Homo sapiens: one gene and its partners. The protein of the gene in region 1 interacts with the protein of each later gene in a pairwise test. Each region holds a gene or a part of one and is shown in the gene's direction. Other genes may lie near its edges. The genes, in order: TEX264, SLC34A2, TM4SF18 and SLC10A2.

Region 1 (8,442 bases):
GTGACCTCAAGTAATCCACCCGCCTTGACCTCCCAAAGTGCTAGGATTGCAGGCATGAGCCACCGCGCCTGGCCAAAGAGGGAAAGAGGGAGGGAACGATAGGCCAAAAGCCTACAGCACCCGGTATTCCAGGCAGTCTCCCATCCAAGTACTAACTAGACCCGACCTTGCTTAGCTTCTGAGATCAGACAAGATCAGGTGCATTCAGGGTGGTATGACTGTAGACCCTTTATTTCATACTTGGGCAAATTGAGGGCCAGAGGGAAGCTACCGATTTGTGTAGCCAAGCCAATGCCCTAGGCTCCTGCCTGGGGTGCTCTCTGCCACTTCCTGCTTCCTCTTTTCCCTCCCTGGCCATCCTGTCTTACTCCCTGTCTCCTTTGCCTGCCATTTTCAGAGCTTTGGGCTCTGCTGGTGTGAGGGGAGAGTAGAGAGAGGGGAAGGTGCTCACCAGCCCTTCTGCAGGCTCTCCCTGCTGCTGTGGCAAGGCCCCAGAGCACCAACAGACAGGTCTGGCTTCTGGGCCAGAAGCTTTGGGGCAGCCTGGTGGGGGTGAGAGGAAAGTTTCCGGGCAGAATAATAACGTGCTACCTTCTAGCTGCAGCCTCTTGCTATACCTCCCCAAAGCATGCACGTGCCATGAAGACCAGCTGCCTGAGGGGCCTCCAGGGTTTGAGTCCCCACTTGCAGGGACTGCTGTGTGCAGGCAGGTGCATGTTGGTGTCTGTAATTAAAAATGAGCATGCATCACTTCACCCAGTGAGGAGACGCCACTACCTCGGGTGGGATGCAACAGCTGCTTGCTGGCTGTGCAGCTGCCTGGGTATCCAGCCTGGCACAGAAGGATAGATAGGACTGGGTAGCTCAGGGTGAACAGTAAGGCAAGGCCCAGGGCCCCTCAGCCAGACCTCATCCCTTGCTGGGCCTAGAGCTTATGTAGGAGATGTGACCCGTCCTTGGCCCACACATTGCCTCCTTCTTTTGGGCATTTGCAGCCACCTAGTTCTAAGCAAACCTCCAGCCTCTGGGTAGCCTGGGAGTGGGACCCATCATCAGCCTTCGTCCTGGGCCTGACCTCTTCTGTCTTCTATTTGCTCCCAATCCCTAGCTGAAGCCAGGGCACAGGGTGATGTCCTGAATACAAAGCACTAAATGAGGATAGTTCAGGTCCAGGTCCTCTCTCTTACCTCTTTTCTTCCTCTCCCATAATTCAGAAAGACCTGCTGGGGAGGCACTGTGGGTCCCGTGGGGGAAAGCTTGGCCTGGTGTATCAGTCTTGCCCTGTTGTGGGAGCCCTGAGCTGAATGGGGTAAATGCCTGCACCCTGCCCAGGAGATGAACTCAGGCTGAAGTGAGGTGGGAGTGTGTGGTGTGTCCCCAAGGTAGCTGACGCAGTGGCACTGTGGCAGCCTGTGTGAGGTGGGTGAGCTGCTCCTTCCCTTTTTTGCCAACACTCCTGAGTGAGTAAGCAGGTGTTGGTGCAGGGTGGGGTGGTGGTGGGGAAGTGCTGGTGTCTGGGGTCTCTTAGAAATTCCTGCATCATGGGTGGTGTCCCAAGTCCCCATCTTGTTTCTGCATGTGGAAGACCCAGGTGGGAGGGAAGGCCCGGAGGTGTGTCTGAGGGACTGGAACTCTGAATCCAGTTTCTGGCAGACCCTGGGGGCACCTTGGCATGGTTCACTGACTTTTGCCTGTTAGGTGGAGAGGAATGTGAACATCTGCAACTCTCCCACCTTGGAAAGAGGCTTTATAGTCTCCTTGGGTCTGTGTGTGGGAGTGAGCTGCTCTGGGCTGTGGGTTTGTTAGATGGCCAGTGGTGTCAGTGGCAGAGCACGTTCTCATGTCCTGGCAATGCTTCCACACACTGCTGGCTGTCTGGGCTGTGGAAGGGGATGTGCCAGGGCTAGGAGGACCCCAGGCCCACCCAGGCTCTTCACCAGTGGGACCAGCCCAGTGTGACCTTGAGCTAGTGTCCTTGGCCACTGGCAGTCTGCTCTCCAAGGGCTCCCTGGGGCTAACTGAGGGAGAGGCAGCTGGCCTCGCCTTCCTCCAATGATTTTCCAATATTTACTGGCTCATTGACATATTGCCCGGGCCATGGCTCCTACTGTGCAGCAAGGACCTGAGAGCCAGCCCATGGTCACCCTGTCTTCCCTCCGAGGTTGCACCTGGCTGGGAGGGAAAGGGCTTGTCCTCTCTGCCTGATCACTCAGGGACAGAGCATATAGCTTGTCCTGCCCCTCACCTTCCATCCCCAGCCCCCACTAGAGTCATTCTTGCTCAGTGGGCAGAGCATGCAAGGGAGAGCAGTCTCCCAGGAAGGGCCAGGGGGCAACTACAAGCCCCTTCTCTGCCTGTGGGCCTGGCTTAGAAGTTTGCTCCTTTGCCTTCTTCCTGTCCCTTCTCTGCCCAAGTCTGAATTTTGGTAGGACCTGGTGCATGTGCTATAATGATTTGGGGCTGAACAGTCAATGGCATTTTAATTAGCTCCATGCCTCCCTCCAGTAGGGAGGACCAGGGCCCCCAGGTAACAGCAGGTAGGACCAGGCTAGTTTTGGGCCTGAGGCTGCCCCTCCAGGGGTCTGGGAGCAGGCTCTGGGACCTGGTGCTCCCTGTGTGAGATGCTGTGAGGAGGGAGAGCTGGGCAGAGAAGGAAGGGCTGTGTCGCAGGGCCACAGTTTTCTCTCCATCCTCTGTCTCCCTTGATCCTCTGTTCTCCCTGATGGCTTTGAGATGAAGGCGACGGCAAGGATGGAGGATGCAGTTTCCATGGCAACGGGGCTGTCCACAGCCAGGCAACTTCAGAGCCGGGCTCTCCGGAGGAAGCAGATGCGCAGAACAGCCGCAGAGCTGCCTCCCGCCTGCCAACGAGGGGGCTGGCAGAACAGGTGGCACAGGGTGGCAGCCTGGTGCTGCCCAGCCTAGGGGAGAGGGTGGAAAGAGCAGTACTCCCTCTTATTATCTTGTTATGGCCAAGTTCCTCCAGAAGGGAAGCTAGGGAGGTGGCTTGAGTGTTGAGAGGGGTTGGGCTAGGGTCCCCATTGTCCCTGGAATCTCTGGGTGGACACAGGCTCTGTCCTCTGGGATCTTCCCCCAAAAGCCAAATGTCTGCTGCTCTTGTGATGGCCACTCAGCTACTACCCTTTGGGTCCTTTGTCCAGAGTGTGAGGATGTTGGTGAAGGCCATGCCCTGACTAGATTCAGGGATCCTTTTCTTTCATCTAGCTACTGGGGAAGGACCTGGACCTTCTTCAGGGGCCTCCCTGCCCCTGGCCTCAGTGACCTGGACCAGTTTGCTGAGTTGGGTTCAGGTTTGGCAGATGCCTGCCTCTAAGTGCTGGCATTGGAGGGGCCCCAGAGCCTGACAGCTCCTGCTTCCTGACACTGTGATCTTGTTTAGCCTCCTCCTGGAGACCAAGGCTGGAGTGGGTATGTGAGTGGGTAGAGAAGCAAAGACAGCCATCTGTGTGTTTAGAAATGGGACGTGTCAGGGGCATGGACTCTTGAGATGGAGGAAGCCCCGAGGGCACCCAGGTTGGCAAAGAAGATTTGACTCCAACTATTAAAAAATAATGACTTTCCTTCACCGACCTTGGAAGCATCAGGGCTAGGGTGTTCTACTTTGCTGTTGAGCACATGGAGACTTAGGATGGAAGGCTTTGCCTGGATCACCCATGGAGTCAGAGGCTGAGCCACAGCCAGACCTGGGACAGGCCATCCACCTCCCGCGTGGCCTCCTAGATGCACCCTCCCTTCAGCTGGCTGCTGAGGGTCCTAGCTAGGTAAACCTTTCAGGCTCACTCCTCTTTCCCTTTATCATCCGTGGGCTTGCTTTTAACCCTTCTTTGCTAGCTTGCTTTAGTTGAAGGAGGTTCCTCAACCCTAGGGTTGGCCAGGCAGGTGGACAAGTGGAGTCTTGGAGTGGCTTCTCCTTGCCAGGCAATAAGTCTCTCATTACTGCTAAGTGGAAGGCTCATTTCAGAGCTCATGGTGAGAGCGGGGCGAATGCTATAAATAGTCGTGTTGTGAAGATTGGCGGGTGAGCAGTGACAGGGCAGGGGCCTTGCAGTCATCATAGTGGGTATTTGTGCTCCTTCGCAGGAAAGGTGGCGGGGCAGGCTCTGAGTAAGAGGCAACTTGACCCCTGTTCTGGCTGTCCCTGCCTGCCTCAGGGTGGCTCTGGCATGTCTGTGCCCCTCCATACTCATTGGGGGATGGGGAGCACTGGATTCTGTGTCTAGGCAGAGGGAGGTGGAGTGCCTTTTGGAACTTGGGGCCCAAAAGGTGGTACATCAGCCCACTGGGTAATGTCCTGTGCTAGATCTACTTGTCCTACCTGACCTTCCAGTCCAGGGTCTCCCTCTTCCCCATCAGCTAAAACCTGAGTTTACATGTGAGGAGGTATGGGAACCATACCTGATAGTCTCAGAGGTTGACATAGCTCTAAACTAGCAGGGGAATGAATGGGAGTGGAAGTGGTGTTTAGCTGGCCTTGATCCTTGTTCAGGGTCTATAGTAGCATGTCTGCAAGAGCAGGGGCTGGAGGCCTAAGGACTGGGGGTGCTGGTCTTCTGATATCTGTGGGTCAGTCAGCGTTGTCCAGGGTGGAGAGGAGGTCAGGGCCAGGGGGTCCTGGGATGGAAAGTCTGGTAGGTGAGACCTTGGCTTAGGCACATGGGGTCCCTATCCTGGGGTGGTCCAGGGGTGCCAAGCTTCATGGCTCTGTGAGACCAGTGCCTTCTGGAACAGCTTTTTGGTCTCAGATGTACACATAGGAGAGCAGTGCCAGGCTCCTGGGTTCTTTTACCACCTGCCCTAGGGTGTCGTCCTGGGTCTTCAGACTATTATTGCACTCTGGACTATGGGGCCCTGCTGTTAGGGTGATCTATGTGTGCCTCCCTCAGCAGGGCTTTGGAACTTGGAAGAGGTTGAGAGGCAGAGCCAGCCCCTGGGACAGAATAGGTAATAGACAGTTCTGGGGGTCACCCAGGGACAAGTGAGTCAGGGGCCCTGTAGGGCTCATTCTACCTTTTGCCACTCTCTGACTAGGAGCGGAAGCTGTGTGCCTATCCTCGGCTGGAGATCTACCAGGAAGACCAGATCCATTTCATGTGCCCACTGGCACGGCAGGGAGACTTCTATGTGCCTGAGATGAAGGAGACAGAGTGGAAATGGCGGGGGCTTGTGGAGGCCATTGACACCCAGGTGGATGGCACAGGTACAGAAGGTGGGGTATGAGGATGGGGCCCTCCTGGAGCTCCTCTCTTCTGGACTCCAGGGGCTTGGTTGAGGAGGCTCCTCCCTCTCTGGGTTGGCACTGTGGGTGTCAGGCTATGCTTGGCAGAGGGAGGAAGGAGACCCACCTACCTGAGGACCCACATGTGGAGTTGCCTGTTCCCAGACACATGGATCTACATAGATGTGGATTCACACACATTACCTCCTGGCAACACAGATACAAAGACCCTGCCTGGATTCCCTCCAGATGCAGCAGGAGTACCCTTGGAAACAAAGATCACAGACAGCTCGATGTTCATGGGAGGGGGCTGAGGCTGCTCAGGAAAGGAGTCCCTTGGGTGGGGCTCAGCAGGAAGTAAGATTGGCATAGATCTGGAAGGTAAGGAGGGGAGCAAAGTGTTCTCTTGTCCCTCAGTACGGGCCCCACCCAGAGCCAGCTGCTTTCTCCCTGCCAGGGAACAACCAGGGAGCATGCAGAGGGGAGCCAGGAGATCAGTCACCTGTGCCTTTCTCCAGGGCCAGCCCACACTCCTGCTGGCAGCCTCAAGGCCCCAGGTCCAGGCTGGAAGGCTGCTTGCCTGCCCACCCCTCTGCAATGATCTGTGACCCCGGGCTGTCTCAGGCACAAGGGGGTCTGCTGGGTTACATCCCAGATGGTCCCAGGGGGCCTTATCCTTGGCCAACCTGGTGGAGTTTGTGACTTCTAGGAGTGGTACAGGGCTGTGGGGAGAGGAACTGTCCCTCCTCTCCTCCTTCTTTAGCAGATGCTCTGCCCATCCAGTCTTCAACAGCCAAGGTCACCCTAGGGAGACGTGTCAGCTAGGGCTGGGTAGGAGGGTATTGGGAGCAGTCTCTACTCCCTAGGGGCCTGTGTCCAACACAGTTAACTTCATCTGCCACTTAATTACCTCCATGGGGTACAGCTCCCTTCTGCCTGGTAGTGCCCGGCAGACACTCTTCAGTGCCCCTACTGTGGGCACAGGACATGGCACAAGGTCAGCAGGCCCAGGCAGCCTCCAGGGCAGGAAGACAGAGTGCCTTCACTTTACTGTGACCTCCCTCTGCTGCCTGCCTCCCCCTCCTTGACCCACCCACCCAGCTTCCTTCCCTCCCAAACACTGCCTGTCAGGGTCATTGAAGGACTGCTTGGCACCCACTACAGCTGGCTGTAGTGGCAGCTCCCACATTCCCCAGCTCCTCAGCCTGTTTTCCTCCCCTCCAGCCCGCCCACCCACTCCCTGGTGTTGGGGCCAAGGGGTCTGCCCACCTCTCACAGGGCCTGTCCTGACACCCCAGCGGGACTCGGTGTTTGCCCACCAGGTGCATGCCACTGACACAGCAGTTGGTGGTGGGTGCATGCAGGATGTCTGACTGCCCAAGGCTTGGCCTGTCCCTGCCCGCCTCCCTGCTGTGGCCCTAGCTTAGGCCGGGAGGTGAAAGGGGGTGATTAGCTGCCTTGTGCCTGTTATTACATTGATGTATTATTTAGCTTCAGAGAGGCGATGAATATTTGATCGTCTTGCACTGGCTGTGGGCAGAGCGAGAGGGAGGGATTTGGGTGAAGGGGGTGGGCTTCAAGTCCCCTGCCCCAGTAGTCGTGGGGATTTAGGTAGGGCCCTGCCTTGCCTGGTATCTTCTGCCCAGGGATGCAGGCATGGGACTCTGGGACCTCCTCCTGTGTAGATCTTGGTGGGGGTATAGGGATGCTACTTCCCCGTATTGCATTCCTTTTTTTTTTTTCTTCTGCGGCAAGGTCTGGCTCTATCGCCCAGGCTGGAGTGGTGCAGTGGCAAGATCTCGGCTCACTGTAACCTTTCCCTCCCAGGCTTAAGCTGTCCTCCCACCTCAGCCTCCTGAGTAGCTGTGACAAGAGGCGTGTACCACCATGCTTGGCTAGTTTTTGTATTTTTTATAGAGATGGTGTTTCGCCATATTGCCCAGGCTGGCCTTGAACTTGTTAGCTCAAGTGATCCTGCCTCAGCCTCCCAAAGTGTTGGGATTCTAGGGATGAGCCACCATGCCCAGCTGGATTCCTTTTTTTTGTTTGTTTGTTTTTAAAGACAGTTTTCCTTTTTTGCCCAGGCTGGAGTGAAATGGCATGATCTTGGCTCACTGCAACCTCCACCTCGTGGGTTCAAGCGATTCTCCTGCCTCAGCTTCCTGAGTAGCTGGGATTACAGGTGCCTGCCACCATGCCCGGCTAATTTTTGTATTTTTAGTAGAGATGGGGTTTTGCCATGTTGGCCAGGCTGGTCTGGAACTCCTGACCTCATGTGATCCACCTGCCTCAGCTTCCCAAAGTGCTGGGATTACAGGCGTGAGCCACCGTGCCTGGCCTCCAGCTGAATTCCTTTGCTTGAAGTGTATATATGTCTCCAGGGGCTGTCTTCATTTCAGCAGGCTGTCCTGGCCTGAAGGAGGCACCCCTAGGCTCCTTCCTCTGAACATTCCTAGCCTAGGAGCTGGGTGGTAGGAGGTAGCATGCTGGGAAGCAGGCACATTCCTATACCTGGGGTCCCAAGAGAGCCATTGGGTGGGTGGGCAGACAGAACATACAGTTTAATAGGGCCAGGGAGAAACTGTCTCCCTCCTTTGCTCTTTTCAGGCCTGCGGTCCCTGGGGCACTGATCATTATTTAAGGAGCAGTGAGGGCCTGGCATCCTGTCCCCTGGTCAGAAGAAACTACCCAAAACTTAAAGCTCCCCCAGCTCCCTGACCACCTCATTCACAGGCTTCTGTCCTGGGAGCCACACCTGGGGCCTCAGCAAGAGGAGGGCCCTGGGCCAGCAGCCTGGGCTTCTAGGGCTCACCTCACCTCTGCCAGTAGCGCCCAGAGGGCATATTCTGGGGGCTGAGTGGGTGGTGGGGGTAGGGAGAGACCCCAAATTCCCCCCTCTCCTAATTCTCCCACCCCCAACCTAGGCCCCATTTGAGGCTCAAGGAAAGCCCCAGGCTGAGTCCAGGCGCCAAGCAGACCCCAGCTGCACCTGGCTTGGCTCCAACACCATGGAGACAGTGGCTGGGGAAGCTGGCTAACCCCTCACCTTCTGTGATGTTTGACAGCTGACCCTCTCCCCATCATACAGGAAGGGTAGCAGATCCACTTTCTCCCAGTCTGGATTCCTGCACACAGCGAGCCTGAGCCATGTGTTCCTCCTTGCCACCCCAGCCTGCATTCAGTGCCTCTGATCCAGGGAGATGAAC
Region 2 (8,442 bases), on another chromosome or scaffold:
CATTCTGATGGGAGACTGTGTGTCCATGTTCTGGTTCCTCACAGGACCACTGCCCTGGGCTTCCTCCTCTCCCCATTTCTTCAGATGGCCTTGACTGCTGCTCTGGGCACAAGGGGCCCAGGAACAGGTCTTGGTTGGAGAAGCCCAAACAATGCGAATGTAGGGGTTGGGTGACTGCCAGGTACCCTACATTCCCCTGCTTCCCAAGTCTGAGCCAAGTCAAGAAAGTTCCTCTCCTGGGTCTTCAAGAAAGAATAAGAGCTCTTTCTGGCAGTGGGTGCCCATGTGGTGCAGGAAGTGGAGCCAAGAGGGTGAGGCACACAGGCAACTCGGTTATAGAGGCCAGTGTGGCAGCGGGGGAGCCCCTCCCTGGGCTTTAGTAAAAAGCTTCCAAATGATGACTTCTCCCTTCCTCTGCTGCTTCTGGCAGGTGGCAAGAATGTGCTGGAGTGAGGCCTTGGGAAGGCTGGGAGAGAACAAGGCAGTGGTTGCGCCAGGGCTATGGGGGTAGGAGAAAGGCTTAGAGGGGCTCAGAGCTCCAGGGTACATTCTCTGCCTGCACCATTTAATACCCACCCCCACCCACCCACCCCACCCCCACCACCCTCCCCTCCTGCTCATCCATTGCAACATTCTTGGGCGGGCATTTCCAGCATCTGAATGATCATGTGGGAGTGACCTGCAGACATGCCAATCTAGCCAGCTATCCGAAAACACTCAGAGCCCTCAATGTGCCTAGACCTAAGGCCCCTGGGTGCCCTGGTGCTTTGAGGGCTGGAGAATTTCTCCTCCCTTTGCCCCTGGCTGTGAGATCTGTGGAAAAGCTTCTGGCTTTGGAGCCAGCAGTCTTGGGTTCATATCCTGACACCAGCTCCAGGTAGTTGGAGGCAAGCTTCTTTGTTTCTCTGTGCCTCAGTTTCTTTGTCTGTACACTGAGAAGAAAAACTCCTTCCTTGGTAGATTTAATGAGGTCACAAACTGTATAGGACACTCCTCTGCCACAAAACAAACATTAGCATCTTTCTCTCACAGGCTTTGGATTCATTTATTCAAATATTAACTGAGATCCACTACCATGCTGAGCATTGGAGATGAAGAGCTTATAGTCTAGGGTACACACAGTGGAAATGAGGCCATTTACTGTTCATGACACAGTGCATTTCCACGTAATAAACACTCTTGTTTATTGTTCATGACACAGTGCATTTCCACATTGTGTCATGAACAATAAACAAGAGTTCCGAGTGTTTACTCTGCCAGGCACCATGCTCTAGCCTCACCTACACTTATTAACCAATTAGTCCTCATAACAGCTCAGTAAGCAAGATGGTATTGTCCCCATTTTTACAATGATGAAGCTGAAGCTCAGAGTGGCTCAGGGTTGCATATAGTGAGGGGCAGGCCTCTGCAGAGCCAGCCCTCCCTCACTGTGATTCGCCTCTCTCCAGGTATCACTGAGCCATCTTACCTTTGTGAGCTTAGAGGTTGAGTTGCATCTTTTAAAATAATTTTCTTCTAAAATTTAAAAAATCACCCACAGTCTCACCACTCCCTTTTACCTCCAGAGAACATTTCTGGATCTTGTCTGCCTTGTTGAGATGATGCTGTGAATGGGAAAAAGAAGTGCTTTAGATGTGAAGTTTATCTAAAGCATTTCCCTATGGTTTTACTGATTCAGTATAACCTCTTTAATGGCATGCTCTTACAATGCATGGACATACCATAGTTAGAAGGAGTAATTTCTCTTTTTTCATTTTTTCACACTGTAAATGATAGAGCAGCAAATATCTTTTTGGTCTACATCACATTCATTCTATCATAAATATGCCCGGCAGGGCTCAAGACCTTAAAGATGAAGTGATGGACAAGACAAAGTCCACTTTTTGGTAGGGTTTGCAGTCTGGTAAGCAGGAAATAGGTTGACGAAGAAAGGAGTCAGGTGGACTCAGGCTCTAAGAAGCCCTCTTGGAAGAGGTGATCAGAGTAAGTTAGGTATTTCTGAATTTCTGAGAGGAAATATTCCTAGCTTCCTGATTCCTAGAAGTGAAATGACTGGGTCACAGACGTGTGATGAACATAAGGCACTTTGGACAGTTTGCTAACTTTTCCAGAGCTTCTAGCAGTGTTCAACTCATAACATCTTCTCCAGCATAGCATAATGAACTTAAATTCTTTTTGCTACTTTGATAGTTGTCACTGTTTTAGTTTGAATATATGGGATTGCTTCTGTTTTTTTGAGACGGAGTTTCACTCTTTTTGCCCAGGCTGGGGTGCAATGATGTGATCTCAGCTCACTGCAACCTCCACCTCCCAGATTCAAGTGATTCTCCTGCCTCAGCCTCCCGAGTAGCTGGAATTACAGGTGCATGCCACCACGCCTGGCTAATTTTGTATTTTTAGTAGAGACGGGGTTTCACCATGTTGTCCAGGCTGGTCTCTAACTCCTGACCTCAGATGATCCACCTGCCTCGGCTTCCCAAAGTGTTGGGTTTACAGGCATGAGCCACTGTGCCCGGCCTGGATTGCTTCTTTTTTAATAGGCATTTTAGCCATTTGTTCCTTTTCTGTGAATTGCCTTTCTCCAATCTTTTGGACTGCTTTGTCTAATGGACAAGGACTAATTGTCTAATGTCAAAGAACAAGGACTGCAAGGACTGGAATGTGAGGTGTGTCAAGTACCATGTAACTGAGAAAGGCCTTGTGAAGAAAATAGATTGTAAGAAGGTCTTTTCTGAAGGCTGAAAAGAATGTGGTTCTAACAAAGGATGATTAATCCAGACAGCATGACATAGTAATAATTGCTGCTATTTATTGGATGCCTCCTCAATGCCAGTCACTTTCTAGACTTTTAATTTCACTATTAGTCTCATAACCCTGCAAGAACTGTTCCATTTTATAGATGGAGAAACTGACACTTTATGCTCAGAGGCATAAAGGGACTTGCCTAAATACACACTCATTAATAGGTGGCACTGCTGGATTTTAAAACCAGGTCCATCACTCTTTTCACAGAAGGCCTGGGTGGTAGGTAAAACACGCAGAAGGTATATGAACACCTGCATATACTTATATATTTTGAGACAGAGTTTTGCTCTGTATCCCCCAGGCTGGAATACAGTGGCATGATCTCAGTTCACTACAACCTCCGCCTCCCAGGTTCAAGCAATTCTCATGCCTCAGCCTCCTAAGTAGCTGGGATTACAGGCACCCACCACCATCCCCTGCTAATTTTTGTATTTTTAGTAGAGACAGGGTTTTGACACGTTGCCCAGGCTGGTCTCGAACTTCTGACCTCAGGTGACCCACCCACCTTGGCCTCCTAAGGTGTTGGAGTTACAGGCCTGAGCCACCTCGCCTGGCCCCTGCATATATATTCACATACACACTAAGTTGTATAAATCTGTTAAATTCCACTGGATAAGGTTTTGCATAGATTTGCAGTGCACTTGTCTTGATATAAGAAGTAGATGGGGTTCCATTGAAGGGTTGTGAGGATTTGGCATGCTATGAGACAACAAAGATGAATGGGCTTGCACCCTGCCTTTTTCTTTTTTTTTTTTTTTGAGAAGGAGTTTCACTTTTGTCACCCAGGCTGGAGTGCAATGGCACAATCTCAGCTCACTGCAACCTCTGCCTCCCAGGTTCAAGCGATTCTCCTGTCTCAGCCTCCCGAGTAGCTGGGACTATAGGCGTGTGCCACCACGCCGGCTAATTTTTATATTTTTAGTAGAGATGGGGTTTCACCATGTTGTCAAGGCTGGTCTCAAACTCCTGACCTCAGGTGATCCACCTGTCTTGGCCTCCCAAAGTGCTGGGATTACAGGCGTGAGCCACGGTGCCCGTTGCACCCTGCTTTTGACTGAAGGAGAGAGTCAAGACAAAAACAAGTTTACGAGATTAAAGGTGGTACATGCAGCTAACTCAACACTGTACGAGGTAGTTTGCTTTAGCGACTGGGTGAGTGTTTGAAGGGGAACCACAGAGGAAATATGGTGCTTAATATGCCACACTTAGGGGGCATAAGTGTGAAATCTTTCCCTTCCTTTTACTGCCGCCTCCGGCCGAAACCCCCACCCAGTTGATGCTTTGCAACCAATGGTTCTTCCTCTTATAGCATCTCGGTGTGCCTCCTTTCCATGACTGCTGCTTTAAGCTGTTTTCTCATCCACAGACCATGGCTCCCTGGCCTGAATTGGGAGATGCCCAGCCCAACCCCGATAAGTACCTCGAAGGGGCCGCAGGTCAGCAGCCCACTGCCCCTGATAAAAGCAAAGAGACCAACAAAAGTAAGTGTCGCTCGTTTGTCTGCAGATCGGCCTTTGTGAGGACCCCAGGAGACTCAGGTCTGATTCCTCATTACCCCTTTTGCTTGTTTCAGCAGATAACACTGAGGCACCTGTAACCAAGATTGAACTTCTGCCGTCCTACTCCACGGCTACACTGATAGATGAGCCCACTGAGGTGGATGACCCCTGGAACCTACCCACTCTTCAGGACTCGGGGATCAAGTGGTCAGGTAAAAGTGAGGCCAGCTGAGACATTCAGGAGGGAAACTTCCTGTGGTTCACGGTGTCATCATCCTCCTGTCCCTCCCCCTTTTCATTGTTCTGATTCCCTTGAAGCAAGGGTCCTGGCTAGGGATGTCACCCTCTCATCTTTTTTTTTTTAGACGGAGTCTTGCTCTGTCACCCAGGCTGGAGTGCAGTGGTGCGATATTGGCTCACTGCAAGCTCTGCCCCGTGGGTTCAAGCAGTTATCCTGCCTCAGCCTCCTGAGTAGCTGGGATTACAGGCTAATTTTTGTATTTTTAATAGAGATGGGGTTTCACCATGTTGGCCAGGCTGGTCTCGAACTCCTGACCTCGTGATCCACCCTCCTCGACCTTCCAAAGTGCTGAGATTACAGGCATGAGCCACAGCACCCGGCCACCCTCCCATCTTTGAGGTAGAGTCAAAGCATGTTGGAGTAATTGGGGGTCATTCATTCAACAAATGTGCCAGGCACTGTGGTTATAGCAAAGATGGACATTGTCTGGCTCCTTATAATTCGCTGTGGGTGATGAGGTTCCAGGTACTGCTTTGGAGATGCTGTGGATACAGTGATGAACAGAAAAGGCCCCTCTTCTCAGAGAGCTTTCAGAGGGGTCCCCTCACCAAAATGTGGGCATATTTCTAGTAAAAGAAAATATGCAGCCAGACAGCTGGATGCAAGCAATCACTGTTTCATTTCCAAATGTATGTAGGGCAGAAGGTCTGTCTGTGAACTAGACAGCAAGGAGGAAAAAGGAGATTGGGGTGTGGGGTGGGGAGGAGAGGTAGGAAGGAAAGAGCTGGGAGGGGGAAGATGAGAACCATTTTAAAAGCCAGTGGAGTAAACAGCACTTAAGGATGTAGCATCCCAGGATGTATGATGCCCCAAGCCCTCCATAAATTGAGGCTGATTGCTGCTGTGCAGCTGCATTCTAGAAAATACTCTGTGCTGTTTGGAACGTGACAGCCATTATCTCCGACCCTGCACTTAGCAGGTGGCTAGTGCTGTCAACTGCCTCACTCAGTGACACTGTGGCTCAGCTGAGCATGGAGCCTGGTTTTTCTGTCGCAGACCACATTGAACCCCTCCTCCCAAACGCAAATCCTTTAGAGGCACTTTACCAGGGGTTTCAGCTAAATGGACCACAGCGGTAACTGCTTTGAAAGCTGCAGCGATGGCTGCTTCCCATCTGTAAGGCTGGCTAGACATAAGAACTTAACGGCTGCCAGGCTGGGAAGGGAGGGGAGGTCGGGGGAGCTCTGAGCTCATTGCCAAACTTCTCAGGGTTTCCAACACTAAAAGTTTCATGCCTTTCTCTCTCTCCCCCCATCCCACCCCCCTGCAGAGAGAGACACCAAAGGGAAGATTCTCTGTTTCTTCCAAGGGATTGGGAGATTGATTTTACTTCTCGGATTTCTCTACTTTTTCGTGTGCTCCCTGGATATTCTTAGTAGCGCCTTCCAGCTGGTTGGAGGTAAGAATGAAAGGGTGAGAGGTCTGCGGGTGAGGGGCATTATCTTGAAATGTGGTTCCGAGAGTAAAACTCAGCAAGCCCTCTCCAGCTGCAGCCTCCTGGAGTGTTTTAGGACTGGAACCGACCTCAGATCATTTATGAAGTCTATGCTTTCCGTTATAGAAGAGAAAACTGAGGCCTATACAAAGGGCTATGACTTGGCCCAGGTGGCTTAGGCCAGGAGCTGGGGCTAGACTATTCCAAGCTATCCGCCAGTTGAGTTTGTCCACAAACCCCAGGCAGGAAGTTGTCTGACATACAGACTTAGCTGAGGAATTCCTATATCCTCCACACCAGAGAGAATTCTGGAATGAGAAAGAGTGCCCTTTCAAATATGGGCCCTTGCTGGGGGAAGGACAGGGCCCCTTCTCTGGGCTGGAGGAATCTGCATCCATTGTACTTACCTTCACAGCCCTTAGGGCTGCGTGTGCCCATGCAGTGTGAGAACCCAGGAGTGAAGTCACCATGTGCTTGGTTCCCTTTGTACCTCAATGGTGATGTCAGAAACAAACAAGCAGCACTCCGTCTACTGGGTGCAGGCATTTTCGGGGGCCCTCTATCAAACATTCTTTCCCAGAGCCCTCCCATTTACGGAGAGATCATGAACCAGCCCTGAGACTCACAGCCTGTGATTAGCAGAGTAAGATTCAGTCTCAGATCTGGGTGACACAAAGGACCATGGATTTCTGCAACCCTTGGTGCCTTTCTTGGGAACCCATCTGTGTGACTTGGGAGAGTTGGGGAGGTGGGCATTCATGGGAGAGCATGAGGGGCAAACACTTCCTGGACATTGCTTTTTTTTTTTTTTTTTTTTGAGACAGAGTTTCACTCTTGTTGCCCGGGCTGGAGTGCATTGGCGTGATCTCAGCTCACCGCGACCTCCACCTCCCGGCTTCAAGCGATTCTTCTGCCTCAGCCTCCTGAGTAGCTGGGATTACAGGCATGCACCACCATGCCTGGCTAATTTTTGTATTTTTAGTAGAGACGGGGTTTCTCCGTGTTGGTCAGGCTGGTCTGCAACTACTGACCTCAGTTGTTCCGCCCGTCCTCCGCCTCCCGAAGTGCTGGGATTACAGGTGTGAGCCACCGTGCCTGGCCTCCTGAACATTGCTTCTGGGCTCCCTGGTCCATGGGAGCATCAGCTAGGGGCTTTGCTGTCTGGTTATCTCAGACAAATCACCTGCATCCTCTGGGCTTCCACCTTCTTTATACAATGGACTTGGGAATGCATTGATGGTCTCAGGTACACTCTTGAGAATAACTCTCCCAGCATTCAATTACAGGCTGGTGCTAGGGCTAAGGGTGGATAGAGAGATCTACTCTTGGAGGATAAATCTGAATTGGGTATACACCCCAGAGACATCCAGGAGGCTCATTGGAACCCACTGGTCCCAGTATGGAGTTGAGGCTGGGTTCCTGAGCACAGAAGGGCTTGCTGACTGAGGAGTGTTTGAAGAGTGGGAGGATGCAGGGTGAAGGAACAAAAGTAACCAGGGGCTCACAGTGGGTCGGGAACCAGGGCAGAGAGACAGAGACAGGAGGCACGTGTGGGCAGCTAGTAGATTTCCTGCCTTATCGGGGCAGCACTGGGAAGAGGCATGGGGAAGCAAGATTCCTTGGGTGCCTGCAGCGATGGAGGCTGGACTCTGCAACCCACAGCCAGCTGGCCTTGGATGGAGACTTCTGTTTACTCAGTGCCCACCTAATCCCCCTCGATCACGTTGTGATTGTTTTTGTTTGTTTGTTTGTTTTTCCCAGGAAAAATGGCAGGACAGTTCTTCAGCAACAGCTCTATTATGTCCAACCCTTTGTTGGGGCTGGTGATCGGGGTGCTGGTGACCGTCTTGGTGCAGAGCTCCAGCACCTCAACGTCCATCGTTGTCAGCATGGTGTCCTCTTCATGTGAGTCGGGGCACCCATGAGCCCACCTGCATTCCAGACACTCTCCTGTCTATCTGAGGGTGGGAAGGACGGGGGAGGAATTCACTCTGAATATGTCCAGGCCTTGCCACCATTGTCTTGGTATCTTGCCCCAGCTACAATGTGTTTCCCTCTTGATCCAAGGCAACTTCCTGTTTCCATTTCGATGGCAGGATCTGGAAATAGACCCTGCTGCTGGAGTTCTCAGCTCTGAATTCTCTAGTACTGTACTTTCCAGACCTGTAGCCACTAGCCACATGTGGCAGTTTAATTTTGTTGAACCTTAATTGATTTAAAATTAAAATATAACATTCAGTTCCTCAGTTGTACTAGTTACATTTCAAGTGTTAAAGAGCCACATGTGGCTGGCTGGCAGCTACCCTATTGAGAAGTAGAGACATAGAACATTTCCTTCACTGCAGAAAGTTAGTTCTCTGGGACAGGGCCACTCTCAGTGCTAAGAAGAAAGACAACTTAAT
Region 3 (7,081 bases), about 98 Mb from region 1:
TGTAAAAGGGCTTGAGGAGGAGAGAAACCATGGTGCTCTTGGATGGTGCCACTCAGGGCTATAGTAGGAGGGATGATAAAGAGATAGAACAAGGCAGGATGAGCAGGAAAGTACAGTCTGAGGTCCAGGAACATGATTAGGTGCAGGAGTTTGTGGAATGAGCCAGAGCTTATGCAGCTTATACTGGAGAAGGGTCTAAAGAGGTAGCCTTGCTCAGAAGGCTAGTAATTCAGTCAGGAGTCTCACAACCCAATCCCGGATCTCAGAATGCCTCACACTGGCATTGTGCTGGGCTTATTGGGTTCCCAGCACCAGATGCAGATTAGGAGGTAGCAGGGCCCAGAAAGAAATACAGAAGAGGTCCAGAATTCTAATGGAGTAAAATGAGGGAATGTCTGTACCATTCACTGGGGGAAGTTAAATTTTCTTCTCAACTCTCCATGATTAGCTTTATTGTTCAAGGCCCATGTCCATCTGAGGTCTTACATGTGCATCTAGGCCTACATGGCAGAGCTGCTTCTGTGACTGTAGCTGCCTTCATTCTGAAGATTTTTACATGGTGCCATATACCATGACCTTTCTTAGCAAACATGACTCTCCCTCAGGTCTCTCCTACTTGCATATCCATTTATAGGCTCTCTGCAAGAAGAAAAATATGGCTCTTTTTGCCCAACCCCACAGGCAGTCAGACCTTATGGTTGTCTTCCCTTGTTCCCTAAAAATCTCTGTTATTCTGCTCTTTTTCAATGTGCACTGATTTCATATTGTTCAAACCACATGTTTTACAATCAATTTGTACAGTTAACACAATTATCACAGTGGTCCTGAGGTGGTGTACATCCTCAACTTATGAAGATAACAGGATTAAGAGATTAGAGTAAAAACAGGCATAAGAAATTATAAAAGTATTATTTGGGAACTGATAAATGTCCATGAAATCTTCACAATTCATGTTTCTCTGCCGCGGCTCCAGCCAGTCCCACCATTTGGGGTCCCCGACTTCCTGCAACATTGCAAGTCATCTTGTTTTAAATTGCTAGATGATCTGTGCAGAGCATGTACTAGGAACAGTCTAGAGGAGGGATCTGGAGGGACTCATTTCCCTGGCAGCTGAGATGGAGATAGGGGTAAATGGGGGTATGAGATAGGTTTAGGGAAATTTAACAGAAAGCCACATCTGTATTGTACTTTACAGGTTCCAAACTGTTTGTATACACATTCTTACCAAATATTCACAATAACTCTGGGGTTAGATATTTTAACCCCATTATCAAGATAAGAGTCTGGAGGGCCAGGCGCGGTGGCTCATGCCTGTAATCCCAGCACTTTGGGAGGGTGAGGCAGGCAGATCATGAGGTCAGGAGATCGAGACCATCCTGGCTCACACGGTGAAACCCCGTCTCTACTAAAAAAATACAAAAAATTAGCCGGGCGTGGTGGCGGGTGCCTGTAGCTACTTGGGAGGCTGAGGCAGGAGAATGGCGTGAACCAGGGAGGCGGAGCTTGCAGTGAGCGAAGATGCGCCACTGCACTCCAGCCTGGGCGACAGAGCAAGACTCCGTCTCAAAAAAAAAAAAAAAAGTCTGGAGGCCAGAGGGGTAAAGTTCTTTGCTCAACATCCTGCAGACCCAAATCCAGGAATTCTGATTTCATATTCTGTGCTCTTTCCCATTGGAGACAAGAGCCATTAACAATATAAAGAAATTCTCAGAGTGCCTCTATTTCCTGGAGCATTAGAAAGTAGAAAATAAATAAAGGTGGGGAAAGAGTAAAAAAGAAGGAAGTAGGAAAGAAATGGAAGAGGGAGAAAGAAAAACAAAGAGGCCATGGGGGTGATAAGGCAAGCACAACATTTATAACACACTAAGTATCTAGCTCAGTGCTATGCATAAGATATGTCCAATATGTGTATCTGAATGGTTTTTAAAATGTATTAATTCATATCTAATAACTATATATTTTAGTTATACAGTAATTTCTCAAACATACAAATGCTTGTAGCTTTCTTCCTTGGACCCAGTATGTAGATTTGGCCATGGGTCTCTCTCAGTTTCCTTACAGATTCTAGCATATGGATTCAGTGCCTGGAACCTGCACATGTTGTGGAGTGGAACATCATTTTATTTTCCATTCTCATAACCCTCAGTGGGCTTCAAGTGATCATCTGCCTCATCAGAGTAGTCATGCAACTATCCAAGATACTGTGTGGAAGCTATTCAGTGATCTTCCAGGTAACAGATTCTCATGGGCACCTGTAGCTCATCCATATTTCCCCCACTTCCCAGGATTCAATGAGGCTTTTTGAAAAGACTCTAGAATTCCATCACTTTCCCCCCATTTCTATTGCCCTCATCTTTATTCAAGCTCTAATATCTCAATTTTTTCTGATATCCCAATGTGTCTTGGCTTATCTATAAGGGTTGAATCAACTCAGTAATTGTAAAATCTGCATTTCTTGTTGTATGGTAAGGCTTCATAAGTGTTTTGAATGAGCAAAGTTTTAGTGTTCTACATAGAGATAACTCAAAGCATGATGAAATTTTACCATTTATCAAGAATTTCCCTGTTCATAAGTTAAGCAAAGGCTCAGAACCTTATCTCATTGAAATAACTTCTCTTCTGAATGCTGCTACATTCAACTAATGAACCTTTATCTCGAGTGCATAGGAGTGCTTTTGAAGAAGAAGGGAAATATGTATTTATCCCATTGAAACTACTTCTACTTCGTCTGCTAAAATACTAATGTTAATTTAGTTATGGTTGAAACTGCTATCAAGAAGTCCAGAGTGAAGAAAAATTATGAATTTAGATGGCTTGTATTTTGTTTAACAACAGAATGTGTAATACCTTTCCTAGCAATTTCTAAGAGATGTTTTTTCTGTTCTATCATATTTTGAATATGAAATATAAGTTTAAGTTGCTATCTGGATTACGGATTACTAATCAAGCCAAGTTTATAACTTTAATCACTTTGTTTTTCCTTTTTTCCTATAGCCTGGAATCATTTGAATAAGGACAAAATGTTTTCCATTATCAAGACATGGCCATCTATCTAAATATTATATCAACTGTGTAGACTTGAGGGCAATATTGAAATGATGGTGCTTTCTGCATTTGGTGTTTATTTGTAAAAAATTTGCAGTCCTCACTGCACATGCAAGTATACCACCCTTCCATTTAGTATGTTTTTTAAGTAATATGCATCAGAAACTTCAGAAATACTTCTGCCCTTTGATCAAACAAATCCATTTCCAAGAATCTGTACTAGGGAAGTAAATAAGAATATGAGAGAAACCTTTATGCAAATATGTATATTGCAACATTATTTAATATTCTGGAAAATTGGAAACACCCCAAAATTCTAAACTCAGAGGAAGGATTAAGTAAAGAGTGGTACATACTGTAAATGTTTTCTGATATTAAAAAAAAAATTAAATAAAAAATAAAGAGTACTACATGGTTGTAAAATTACAGTCATTACAAATGATGTTTTTAAAATTATGAATAATGCTACATCAAAAAGCAGGTTACAAATTCATGTTTACTATATAACTATTTAAAGCAAATGAAACACTAATAGTCAAAGTTTAGGATGAAAACTAAATCTAAAAGGAAATATAACAAAATGCCAATTATGCTTGGTTTGGGGCATTGATGACCCTTCTTCCCACTTTTCTATATTTTCCAAGATTTCTTTATTGAATATGTTTTACTATAAATATTTTCTAAACTCATATTTTCACTATTAAAATTTTTTTATTTTTCCAAACTTTAAGGCATATGCTCTTTCCACATTCCTCAACATTATTTGCAAACATCATGAAATGACACTTCCATCAACATTCAATGAGGAAAGTAGTGATATAGATGAGCCAAAAAGAGTTTTATATAAACTTATACAATCTAAACTCTTGCTCTTCCTTTCTGACTCCTGAGGGTGAGTGTGATGGACTAGAAGAGGTAGCCTTAAAATAAGTGAGCAGCTAGGGAACATGCTCAATGGGCAAGAGAAAATGACCACTGACCAGTCAATACCTGTGTCAGGGGGAGTTACCAGTACCTATATTTATTTTTAAAGTAATTAAAAAGTAGAACACTTACAAATTTTCCACCTATACATGCCATGTCTTCCTCGGGGACAGTAGCCACATCTTATATATTTCCCACCATGCATAGGACCCAGCACACAGTGAAGCCAGTAGGCACTCAGTGTTGAATGCTCATACCAGGTTTTCTGCTTCCTGTAGTTACCCTGCTGAGCACTGCTTCCATCACAGGTGCACTGGGCCTCAACACTTCTGCCATTTCCCCATTTGTCTCCTCCATGGACACTGTCAACAATGGTCTGTCAACACCTGCTCTGTGCCAAAGCCAGGGAGTAGGCTGGGGGGATACGGAAGAGAATATCTTTCTCCTTGATGCCTGCTGTGCCAACAGCCCCCTTTAAGCCTTGTTCACAGCCTTTGCTGAAACAAGCATCTTGAAAGCAAGCCATGTTATACACCGCATGACCTTCATGCTCTGGGCCCAGCTGACTGAACTGGGGCAGGCCCCAGAGTCATGGGCAGCCTATTGTCTTGCTAATGGCCTCTGACTTAGCCTGGAGTAAAACACTGTCCAAACAAGACTGGTGGTTATTCAAGCATAAGAATTTGAACTAGGAAGCCAAGAATGAAGCAACCGGACCATTACCATCAAAAAATGATTAAAGGATGAAGAAGGAAGCCAACATTCAGAGAGTATCTGGTTCATGTTAATAATGGTATCATATTAAAAGGAAGATACATGAACTTCTACTCCAAAAGCTCCTAAAACTGCCTTTGCCCACAATGAACAGTGTACCCTAGGCCTGGTTTCTGTTCTTGGATTCCTAGATAGTCTTTCTTCTTTGTCACTGTGCTGATCATTTCAGTAAACCCCCGACTAAATCAGTGCAGCTCTGTTTATTGCAACTAAAACGATCCAAATGAAGTCTCCCTTTTCTAGATGTTGGGTTGGAGGGATGCTAAGACAAAGATGCTTAGGCTCCAGAGTTTTACAGAGCTTCATTCAATAACACTCTACTTTCCAAAGAACTTAAATATGAGGTCTGAAGGACTTGGACCAAGAGGCAAACCCAAGCTACAGACACCATGTTGTACTCAGAGTGACCTCTCCCCTCTGACAGCCCAGGATTTCTCTATCAAGTCCATAAGCTAGTCATATCTAGGACCATCTTGTTAAAAATTCTCTCAAAGTCTCCTCAGCCCTCTTGTAAACAGACTTCTGGAAGGTCCACTTCATCAGTTTGTTATATACTTTCAGACTGTCTATCTCTTGTTTAGATTCAGCATGGCACCGTACGTTGAATGGACTGTTAATAGATGTTTGCTGAATGACTCCACCACAGCATTGGACACATCAGGGGTACAGCCAAATGCAGCATGATACCTCTATCAGGAAAATTAAATTTTAACACAGCCACCAAATATTCTATATTTGAAGAGTATATGCTAATCATGCAATTTTAAGTAAAAAAAAGCTGAATACAAAAAAAGCTGAATATGTGTTTTATATCCTCGTGAATTCAAAGTAAAAAGGAAAAAAAACTCAAAAACCAAATATATGTATGCAGTTTGAGCCCAAATTTTTAATTAAGTAACCATATAATTACATGTAGACATGTATAAACCTTGAGATATGTAAAGACCAGAAAAATATTTAAAAGTTAATAGTTACATCATCTGTGGTCACAACACCCTGAAAATGCCTAATATTGGAAACTTAAGCAGGATTGATCCAGGTTATTACTTGGATGGGAGACCAGATGCTATAGGCTGAAAAAAGAAAGCATAAGTACGCACAAGTTAATACTTAATAATTATCTCCTAATGATAGGACTATAAGTTCTATCTCTTTTCTTTACATTGTTCAGTATTTTCAAATTTCCCTTTGAAAATGTGTTATGTACTTGAATTATTAGAAAAAATAAATGTCATTTAAAAAGCAATGGTCCTCTAATTCTTTCTGTAAAATTCATTTAAGGAGTTAAAATAGAAAATATATATAGGTATGTATATGACTGGCCTTCTCTTACCCTTTCCAGAAATAATCTTTCCACTTTTTAATTCTGAGAGTATTATGAGCTAATCCTGATTGAGAATGATTTATGTTTTATGCATTTCTGCACTTATTATTTATCTACTGTTCTCCTTGCTTCTATCTCATTGTTATTTTCCTAACTTCTTAAATAGAATACCTAGCTTATTGATTTTCTAACTTTCTTTTTTTCTTAAAATAAGCACTTAAGACTAGACATTCTTTAATTACCACTTTGGCTGAATCTCACAAGTTTTAAAATGTTGCATTTTCCTTGTTTGGTTATAAATATTTTCTAGTTTTCTTTATGATTTATTTTTTGATCCATGAGATTTTTAATGTGCTTTAAAATTTCCAAGTATATGGCTGGGCGCAGTGGCTCATGCCTGTAATCCTAGCACTTTGGGAAGCCGAGGAGGGCAGATCACAAGGTCAGGAGTTCGAGACCAGCCTGGCCAACATAGTGAAACCTTGTCTCTACCAAAAATACAAAAAAATTAGCCGGGCATGGTAGTGGGTGCCTGTAATCCCAGCTACTCGGGAGGCTGAGGCGGGAGAATCGCTTGAACCCTGGAGGCGGAGGTTGCAGTGAGCCAAGATTGTGCCACTGCACTCCAGCCCGGATGACAGTGTGAGACTCCATCTCAAAACAAACAAACAAACAAACAAACAAACAAACAAACAAAAACTTTCCAAGCATATGAGTTTATGTTATATTTTTATGATTTGAACTCAATTGTATTATGATCGTAGAAAGTGGTCTGTGTGATTCCGATAATTTGAAAGTTTTTAAGATTTCTTTTATGATTACTTTTTGTAAATGTTCTATGTGCTGTAAAAGTATATGTTTTCTCCAAATATTGAGGGCGGAATTCTATATGCATACTAAAATTAGGTCAAGTTGTTAATTTTGTTCAGGTCTTCAATATTCTGTTTGGTTGTTTGCTTGATTTAGGGTTGCCGTGAGGATTAAATGAATATATAGAGAGAGTAATTTTATACT
Region 4 (8,400 bases), on another chromosome or scaffold:
TGGTACTTGTGACCCCTCCTAGTCTCTGATCTTCCATACTGCCAAGGTAACGACTATCCTAACTTCTAACACCATAGATTTGCTTTGCCTGTTTTTGTATGTGTTCTTTAGTTTCTGGTTTCTTTCACTCAACATTAGATTTGTGGTAGTAGATTACTCATCCAGCTGATGTATAGAAGTCCATCGTGTGAATATACCACAATATATTTACCTATTCTACCCTTGATGGACATTTGGATAGATTCCAGTTTGACGCTATTATGAATGGAGTCACTGTGAACATTCTAGTTCATGTCTCTTGGGGAACTTAATTTATAGATTTCTTTAGATTGAAACCTAGGACTGGAATGGCTGGGTCGGAGGGCATATGGACATTTAGCTATAATCATTTTCCAAAGTGGTGGGACCATCCTACAGATGTTTAATAAGGATTCACATTCATTCATAAAAACCTGAATAGTCTGCACAGTATTTTCAAAAGAAGCAGATCTAGAACCCAGTTCTGATTCCAAGCCTAGTGCATTTTCCATCCAGTAGATTCCAGGTTCTTCTATCCTACTTTCTTCTCCTCAATACTATGCTGCCTTTTCCCTCTAAAGACTCAAGAATGAATAGCTAGTCATTCACGGGGCATTCTCCCCAAGGTACTTGTTGCCTTAAAGAGGGTCAGTGGTAACTCCAAAGAGCTCTAATTGTGGGACTTTCAGGTTTCATAAAAGATCAATCTGTAGAAAGGAACTAGAGAGGAGAGAGAGGGAGATAACTTCAGTCACAGGAAAGTACTTAACAGAGTCAATCAAATCCAAGAGGGCCATTGATCTGAATAGAGCCATTTGTGATGAAACACAATAGAAGATAGGAAGCTCATCTTTTATCATGTGAACCTCAGGGCAAACATGCTAGAAAGCTATTGAACCCTGGCCTCCTCAAATTGATACACAGGAACAAAAGGGAAGCCTCAGATGTCAAATTCTCATGTCTGCGCCCAGGCGGCCAGAAGCAGGAACCGGCTCCTGGTTTCTTGAGGGTGGCCTGCATGTGAGCCCAGGGTGTGACAAAATGTAGCAGAAAAGACTGAGAAGGATGACGACGAAAATGAAGCTCCAGCCTCCTGACTACCCCTCTCAGGTGTGCATCTGTTTCCAATTCCGTATTACAATTAAAGAGAATGATTTTTTATTTTTTTTAATTTTATTATTATTTTACTTTAAGTTTTAGGGTACATGTGCACAATGTGCAGGTTAGTTACATATGTATACATGTGCCATGCTGGTGTGCTGCACCCATTAACTCGTCATTTAGCATTAGGTATATCTCCTAAAGCTATCCCTCCCCCCTCCCCCCACCCCACAACAGTCCCCAGAGTGTGATGTTCCCCTTCCTGTGTCCATGTGATCTCATTGTTCAATTCCCACCTATGAGTGAGAATATGCGGTGTTTGGTTTTTTGTTCTTGCGATAGTTTACTGAGAATGATGATTTCCAATTTCATCCACGTCCCTACAAAGGACATGAACTCATCATTTTGTATGGCTGCATAGTATTCCATGGTGTATATGTGCCACATTTTCTTAATCCAGTCTATCATTGTTGGACATTTGGGCTGGTTCCAAGTCTTTGCTATTGTGAATAGTGCTGCCATAAACTTACGTGTGTATGTGTCTTTATAGCAGCATGATTTATAGTCCTTTGGGTATATACCCAGTAAAATGGGATGGCTGGGTCAAATGGTATTTCTAGTTCTAGATCCCTGAGGAATCGCCACACTGACTTCCACAATGGTTGAACTAGTTTACAGTCCCACCAACAGTGTAAAAGTGTTCCTATTTCTCCACATCCTCTCCAGCACCTGTTGTTTCCTGAGAATGATTTTTATATATTTAGATACTTTCAGTGTCTGGATTTGAATATAGCTGAAGTTAAGGGTACTAATTAATTGTGAATCATTCCGATACTTGAATATAAAACCTCTCAAGCCTAATGTGCAAATTTATGTAAAAACAATGTGAAATTAGAAATGCATTGGCACTTTTTTTTAAGCAGAACTGTAGCACTCTGTCTAGTCAAACAGACTGCTCATTTGCAAGTTGTCTATATGCAAAGCATTCTGCCCCTGGGAGCCTAAAATCTCCTTAGAAAGTCATCTGAAATTTGAGAAGAGCTTTGTTCTGAACCTGCTTTCTGCTCCCTTCACTTTTCTTCCCTGCTTCCAGCACTGTGAGCAAAAAGCCTAAGTATGGATCACACCTGGCCAACCCAGAAGCAGCCATGGCCCAAAACAGGAGGCCTGCCCTGGGAAACCCATTTGAGTTCAAAGGAGGGTGTCTAAATATGCTTGTCTTGAGCCCTGTGCATTGGGCCTTGCACTGCAGCCTTCCAACTTTAAGAGAAATTTCAGAATCCAAATCCTTCCCGCCTGCAGGGCTCAAATTTTCCTTTGCAGATCAGACCTGGTGAAGAGGCTATTTGCCGTTCAATCCTAGGCTAGCTTTCTGCCTTTCACCTAATGTTTGAGGTTAAGAGAAATCAGAAAAGAGAGACCGTAAACTGATCACCACTGCATGGGCATCTGCCTCACCCACCTTTGGGAGTTGGGGGAAGAGCCAGCCACAGGTGCTCAGGTGCAGGTGCCCAGGTGTGAGCGGCTAGGTGCAGATGCTCAGGTGTGGCAGCAGGGAGTGCACTTGGCTCATCTGCCCTGGGGAGGGCCAGCTCCCGACAGAAGTAGGCCAGAGGTCAGTCCCAGGAAATGCTTGGAGCAGCCAGCAGGGTAGGGCCAAGTCATGATACACCTAGGAGTGGGAGGGGAGGCCTCTTTGGATATTACCTGGTTTATCATTTAGCTGTTGGGGTGGGGAAGGAGGTGGGAAAGACAGAAGGCTCTCCCAGGAATTGGCAGGCAGCCAGGTCAGGGACAATGGCAGCCCCCACTTGTGCTAGAAAGGCAGGCAGGACGTGACCACTCAGATAGCCACATCAACAAGTACAAATCACGGTTGCCCTGGAAGGAAATGGCTCAGGTTTTTCCCAGTAGCTCAATGCCTAGGCACCCCCACCTGTGGTTTGGGCATTTCACTCTATTAGCTCTTCTGCTCAGTGGCCCATTCTGCTAGCCACAGCTCACATTTACTCCAGTTATGAAAAAGGTTAATTTTCCCATATTGAGTTTCTCTGCAAAAGCTGCTTTCAGTTGTGACCGGTAAGTTCCGTTGTCACCAATATGGGTACAACTGTTGTCACTCTGCTATTCTGAAGCCATGATACTAAAAGTGTGACCCCAGATCAGTGTCATCGCCATCAACTACAAGCTTGCTAGAAAGAAAACTCTCCCTAGACTTCCAGAATCAGAATTTGCATTTTAACAAGGCCCCCAGGGGAATCCTGTTCACACTGAGTTTTGAGAAGCTCTGTTCTAAGATATTACTCCAATCCCCAGCAAGCCAAACCGACCACTTTCTTCACATAATCAGAACGCTCGGTTCCAGTATTTCCAGATACCAGCCATAGGAAAACACGTTGTTCTCTCATTTCCCTTTAACCTTATCTAAAGCACTCAATTTCCTCAACCCTTAAGTCGTCATCTGTAAAATGGGAGTGCTAATCCTACTTAATTTAAGATGATTAAGTTGAATAATAAATTAGAATTTGTCCTACAAATTGTGAATCATGATCGGAATATTCAATTTTATTATTACTCTGTGTCCTAACTCAATAACTGGGTTATAAACTCCTGAAAACAGGACAATCTCTTCTCTACCTCTTTCTTTATCTTCCCTGTATACTGAAATACAGCGTTCTGCCCAGCATGAGGTCGACTATTTGACATTTACAAAAATCTCTCTTGGAATCCCCCTGCCAAAAAAAAAAAAATCGAATTTCAATTTATGACTCCAAGCACAAAGAGATCCTGTCACTTTGACCTAATTCTCTGAGGTTCATCCCTCTAAATAATTGTATTGTCTCCATCTATAAAGTACTCTGTTACTATGACAACGCACACATAATTGCATGTGTAAGTAGTTGAGGGTGGCTGTGCAAGTCAGACTCCTTTCCACCAGGAAACACAGAAAACATTCTATCTTCCCAAATGTTACTCTCTCAGATTTGCACCAAGACCCTAGAAGTTTCTTAAATTTCCATATACTTTATGGACACTACAAAGCAATTCCAGGAAACACTGATACAGTAGCAAAACTACTGGGAGTGGAAATTGGATGGAGATCTGGGTCCCAGTTCAGAGTCTGACACCTGATTTGCAACATAATTAGGCACAGGGCACTCAACTATTCAGGGCCCTAAACCCTTCTATTGAAAGGGAAATGGGAGAACAATATGTGTTCCTATGGCTCAGTCCCTATAAGATTCTGTACTATTCAGAGTTGATTTTAAGTGTCACTTAACTGAAATTATCCAACAAACCTTCATGGCATGAAACATTAACACAGCTCTTTTTATATGGCATGGTTCCTATGGCTCAATCCCTATAAGATTCTGTACTATTCAGAGTTGATTTTAAAAGTCACTTAACTGAAATTATCCAACAAACCCTCGAGGACATTAAACATTAACGTGGCTCTTTTTATATGGCATGGTTCATTATCATGCCAATAAATGATTAATCGTAACTCTCTGTCTTGACCAATAATTTTGCTGGACTTTTGTGATTCACAACGTGCTCTGTGTTGTAATGCTACCTCTTGAAACTGACATCCTAGCTTTATTGTTTTTTATTACTTCCCTAAGGTGGCTTTCAAAAGAGACACCAAGTGACATATTTTTAGGAGGGGTTTAAAAGTTTGATGGGGTAGAAGTAAACGTTGCTTAACTCAACCAGCAGCAGAGCCAGGGCCCAGGGACCAGCGCTTCTGTGGACTTGGCCTTTCCAGCAGCAGACCCAGCAATGAATGATCCGAACAGCTGTGTGGACAATGCAACAGTTTGCTCTGGTGCATCCTGTGTGGTACCTGAGAGCAATTTCAATAACATCCTAAGTGTGGTCCTAAGTACGGTGCTGACCATCCTGTTGGCCTTGGTGATGTTCTCCATGGGATGCAACGTGGAAATCAAGAAATTTCTAGGGCACATAAAGCGGCCGTGGGGCATTTGTGTTGGCTTCCTCTGTCAGTTTGGAATCATGCCCCTCACAGGATTCATCCTGTCGGTGGCCTTTGACATCCTCCCGCTCCAGGCCGTAGTGGTGCTCATTATAGGATGCTGCCCTGGAGGAACTGCCTCCAATATCTTGGCCTATTGGGTCGATGGCGACATGGACCTGAGGTAAGATTATCTATACCTCTAACTACTGCAATCACCTTGGAGTAATCCTTCCAGAAGCCTATGGCATTCTGAATGTCCAACTGATTTGCCACGCATCTAAAGTATGACTAAGGAATCAAACAGGAGAGAATAAATGCATTCCCGTGCCTTCTAGCACAGCTGCTTAGCTATTGGAATTGGGGGATTTATATTTTGTGTTTGTGTTTTTAAATCTAACTCAGTTAACAGGGAGTTGCATAATTGCTGTTGATCTCTAGGAAAAGATTCAAAGCTTTTTTAAAAAAGTAATCTTTTCCAAACCACAAGCTGCAGCTGAGGAGGTTTATCCTGTTGGTAGCAGGAAAAAAAAAGCAAAATACACTTTCTTTGTAATGATGAGGAGCTCTGGGTGCAATCATAAAATAAAACTGTTTGTCAAACATTAGAACCTGTAGTGAGACAGTGGTCAACTCCATCAAATATAGCCAGTTCTTTGGGCAAACATTTTCCTGGTATAAAACCTAAGGAAGAATTTGTAAATTTGCTTCACCTCTACTGGCATTAAAAGTGGGGGAAAAAGCCTATAGCAGCTTTTTTAAAATTATGCTTACCTTACTACAAAATAAACAGAAAACGTTTTCTCCACTTCCTACAGAGTAATCTAAATTGCAATGTTTGCCCATTTCATCCCGTGCCAGTCTGAACTAGCACTGGAAAAAAAAACTAATAGAAATAAGATGAAGCATTAATGTGACTAGATTGAGAAATTTAATGCTAAAAGTTGAATAGACAAATGTCTTTTTCCTTAGCTCACAATTCCTCATTTCCCTTGAAAGGTATGCATTTCCTTCTGCAAACCATCCAGGTGCTAATGCAACGTGTGCTTATTAAATACTGTACAGTAGGCAATTAGCTCTGTTCATCCCCAGCTACTATTGGCAGAGGAGAGAAGCACAAAGTGTAGAATTGTAAACACTGGATTGATAGAGTACCCAGTGATCAATTAGGAACCTGCTGTCTCATTTCAACTGGTGCTGGTTTCTCCAGAAGCTTTAGAAAAGTCATACAAACCCTATACCTTCATATGGTTTAGTCTTTCACATAAGAAAACACATGATATCCACCTTGCAATTGCTTTTTTTTTTTTAAGGAAAGCCCTATAAAACAACATAGGATGGCAAGTGCTATTCAGGTTTAGTTAATCTGTGAACCACGATATAGCAATAAGGTCTTTTTAGACCTCAATTTAGTTTGACCTGGACACAGGTACACAGAAGTGAGAATTCTAAATGCCAGCACCTGTTACACTGAGAAAAGTGAACTACTTGGAACATTGGGCCTTGACCCCCAATAAACAGCTTTCTCATAATATTTGTAACTTTTAGTGCAGAGGAGTTTTGTACCTCAATGTAATACCACATATGGAACCCTTTTATAAGACAGAAAAAAAACGTGTGTGGTACTGGACTATTAGGTTGTTGAAATGAATTCTCTTCTGTGAGCTAAAAACAGTAAGATCTAACCTAAAAGCTCCAAGTTACATTTTTCTGTGGTTTTAAGGAAATCTTATTTCTCTTGAAACAGGAGATGATTATGTAATCCTGTCCACCTAGCATAACAATTCCTATAAATTATTTTTTTTAATAAGAACTAAAAGTAGAATATGAAGCTTTGGTAGAAACCTCCAGCTAAATCCGTGCAAATGAATCCTTCCAGCAAGTCAAAATAAGCCCTGTAACGCAACATGGAGCAACCTCACCTATCCAGAGCTCAACAAGACCCAATAAAAGACACTGCACACCCAAAATAAATTTCACTTAATCTCATAAATGCTCCTCATGCGGGACCGACTTAACTATTTTTATTTTAAAGTTCTGTTGTGCTATTTCCCAGAAATAAGAAGCGGGGAAGGAAGCAGAGTGTTAGGAAGGGCAAAAGAGAAGATCAAATGCCTGCAAAGCAAAGCAGACACTGACAACACACAGCCATCTCTCTATCATTTATCCTCTATCACTTATTCTCTCTATCACATATTCTCTCTTAATTATCAATTATTCTCTCTGGTTTCTGTAGCACTTATTCCAGTCTCTGGTCTCTGTATCACTTACTCTTCTACAAACACAAGAAGATGTCACGGTATTTTAGAACAACCGATAATCATGTTTATCATGATCGGTCTTAATCATTGAGAAGAGGTTAAATTATACTGCTATGTAAGATGATGACATTATGCATTGTGTGTTAGGAAAACAATATTCCAATATTTCTTTAATACAAATTAATTAAAAGGGTAAAACCTGAGCTATTGCGTAACAGTTTTCCAAAACTTTTTATTCTTCTGGATTAAGAACTGGATAACTAAAGTCTCCTGATAATTTACTTAGATACAATCCTATCTAACATTTATATTTCCAGTTGTGTACACTTAGAATTTTACCTTCTCCATCTCCACTTGAACTCCAGCAATGGCATGAAGACATGACTGTTTATGTTAACAGGCAGCTACACTAATTGAGCTAATGCCACACAATGCCAGCAAAACCATTCCACCTGGTTTTAACTCTCTTGGTTATGGTTCTTGGGAGAAGAAACCAAAACATTTCTCTCTCACTCTGTCATCTCTTATGAACCTGGAAAGCCACCGCATTTTGCAATCTCTAGTGACTTTGAAAAACAAAAAAAAAATAGACAATAGTCCTTGATCATTGGAATCCAGCAAGTACTATTTCAGCTCCTTCTCTGACCACTCCCAGCCTGGAGTTTGTGAATCTGATTGGTGCACATATATTTTCACCTAAGTTGCAGCTGTGCCATGGACATCACATGCACAAAAAGCATCAGGGAGAAGAGATGGTGACTTTTCAGGTGAATCTGCTTGTGGCCAAAACCCATAGTTGAGAGGACACAGAAACATCCTATCTCCTTTTTGTCTGCTCTCTCCCCAGACACAGGCAAATATCCGGTGTCTTCATCCTTCTTAATGGCCTCAGCGACACCATGCAAGGACTTCTCATTTCCTTTCTTTGGCTTCCTCTTTGGGGAATCCATTCTTATGCATCCTTCTCCCAGTTGCCCCCAGTTCCTTCCCTGCCACCTACTTTCTACATTCCTTTTTATTATTTTACAGACTTTCCTACCACATCCT

What was found.
Region 2: the proteins of TEX264 (region 1) and SLC34A2 interact in binary tests that used the Homo sapiens proteins (3 or more experiments, as listed by UniProt).
Region 3: the proteins of TEX264 (region 1) and TM4SF18 interact in binary tests that used the Homo sapiens proteins (3 or more experiments, as listed by UniProt).
Region 4: the proteins of TEX264 (region 1) and SLC10A2 interact in binary tests that used the Homo sapiens proteins (3 or more experiments, as listed by UniProt).

The regions. Positions count from the first base shown.
Region 1 is NC_000003.12:51,694,357-51,702,798, forward strand, and holds part of TEX264 (testis-expressed protein 264), read left to right. Parts: intron 1-5,049; coding exon 5,050-5,218; intron 5,219-8,442. UniProt on the Homo sapiens protein: Major reticulophagy (also called ER-phagy) receptor that acts independently of other candidate reticulophagy receptors to remodel subdomains of the endoplasmic reticulum into autophagosomes upon nutrient stress, which then fuse with lysosomes for endoplasmic reticulum turnover.
Region 2 is NC_000004.12:25,658,327-25,666,768, forward strand, and holds part of SLC34A2 (sodium-dependent phosphate transport protein 2B), read left to right. Parts: intron 1-4,171; 5' UTR 4,172-4,174; coding exon 4,175-4,286; intron 4,287-4,378; coding exon 4,379-4,516; intron 4,517-5,875; coding exon 5,876-6,004; intron 6,005-7,801; coding exon 7,802-7,945; intron 7,946-8,442. UniProt on the Homo sapiens protein: Involved in actively transporting phosphate into cells via Na(+) cotransport.
Region 3 is NC_000003.12:149,317,406-149,324,486, reverse strand, and holds the end of TM4SF18 (transmembrane 4 L6 family member 18), read left to right. Parts: intron 1-2,050; coding exon 2,051-2,231; intron 2,232-2,994; coding exon 2,995-3,009; 3' UTR 3,010-5,989; downstream 5,990-7,081.
Region 4 is NC_000013.11:103,062,749-103,071,148, reverse strand, and holds the start of SLC10A2 (ileal sodium/bile acid cotransporter), read left to right. Parts: upstream 1-4,731; 5' UTR 4,732-4,899; coding exon 4,900-5,276; intron 5,277-8,400. UniProt on the Homo sapiens protein: Plays a critical role in the sodium-dependent reabsorption of bile acids from the lumen of the small intestine. Transports various bile acids, unconjugated or conjugated, such as cholate and taurocholate.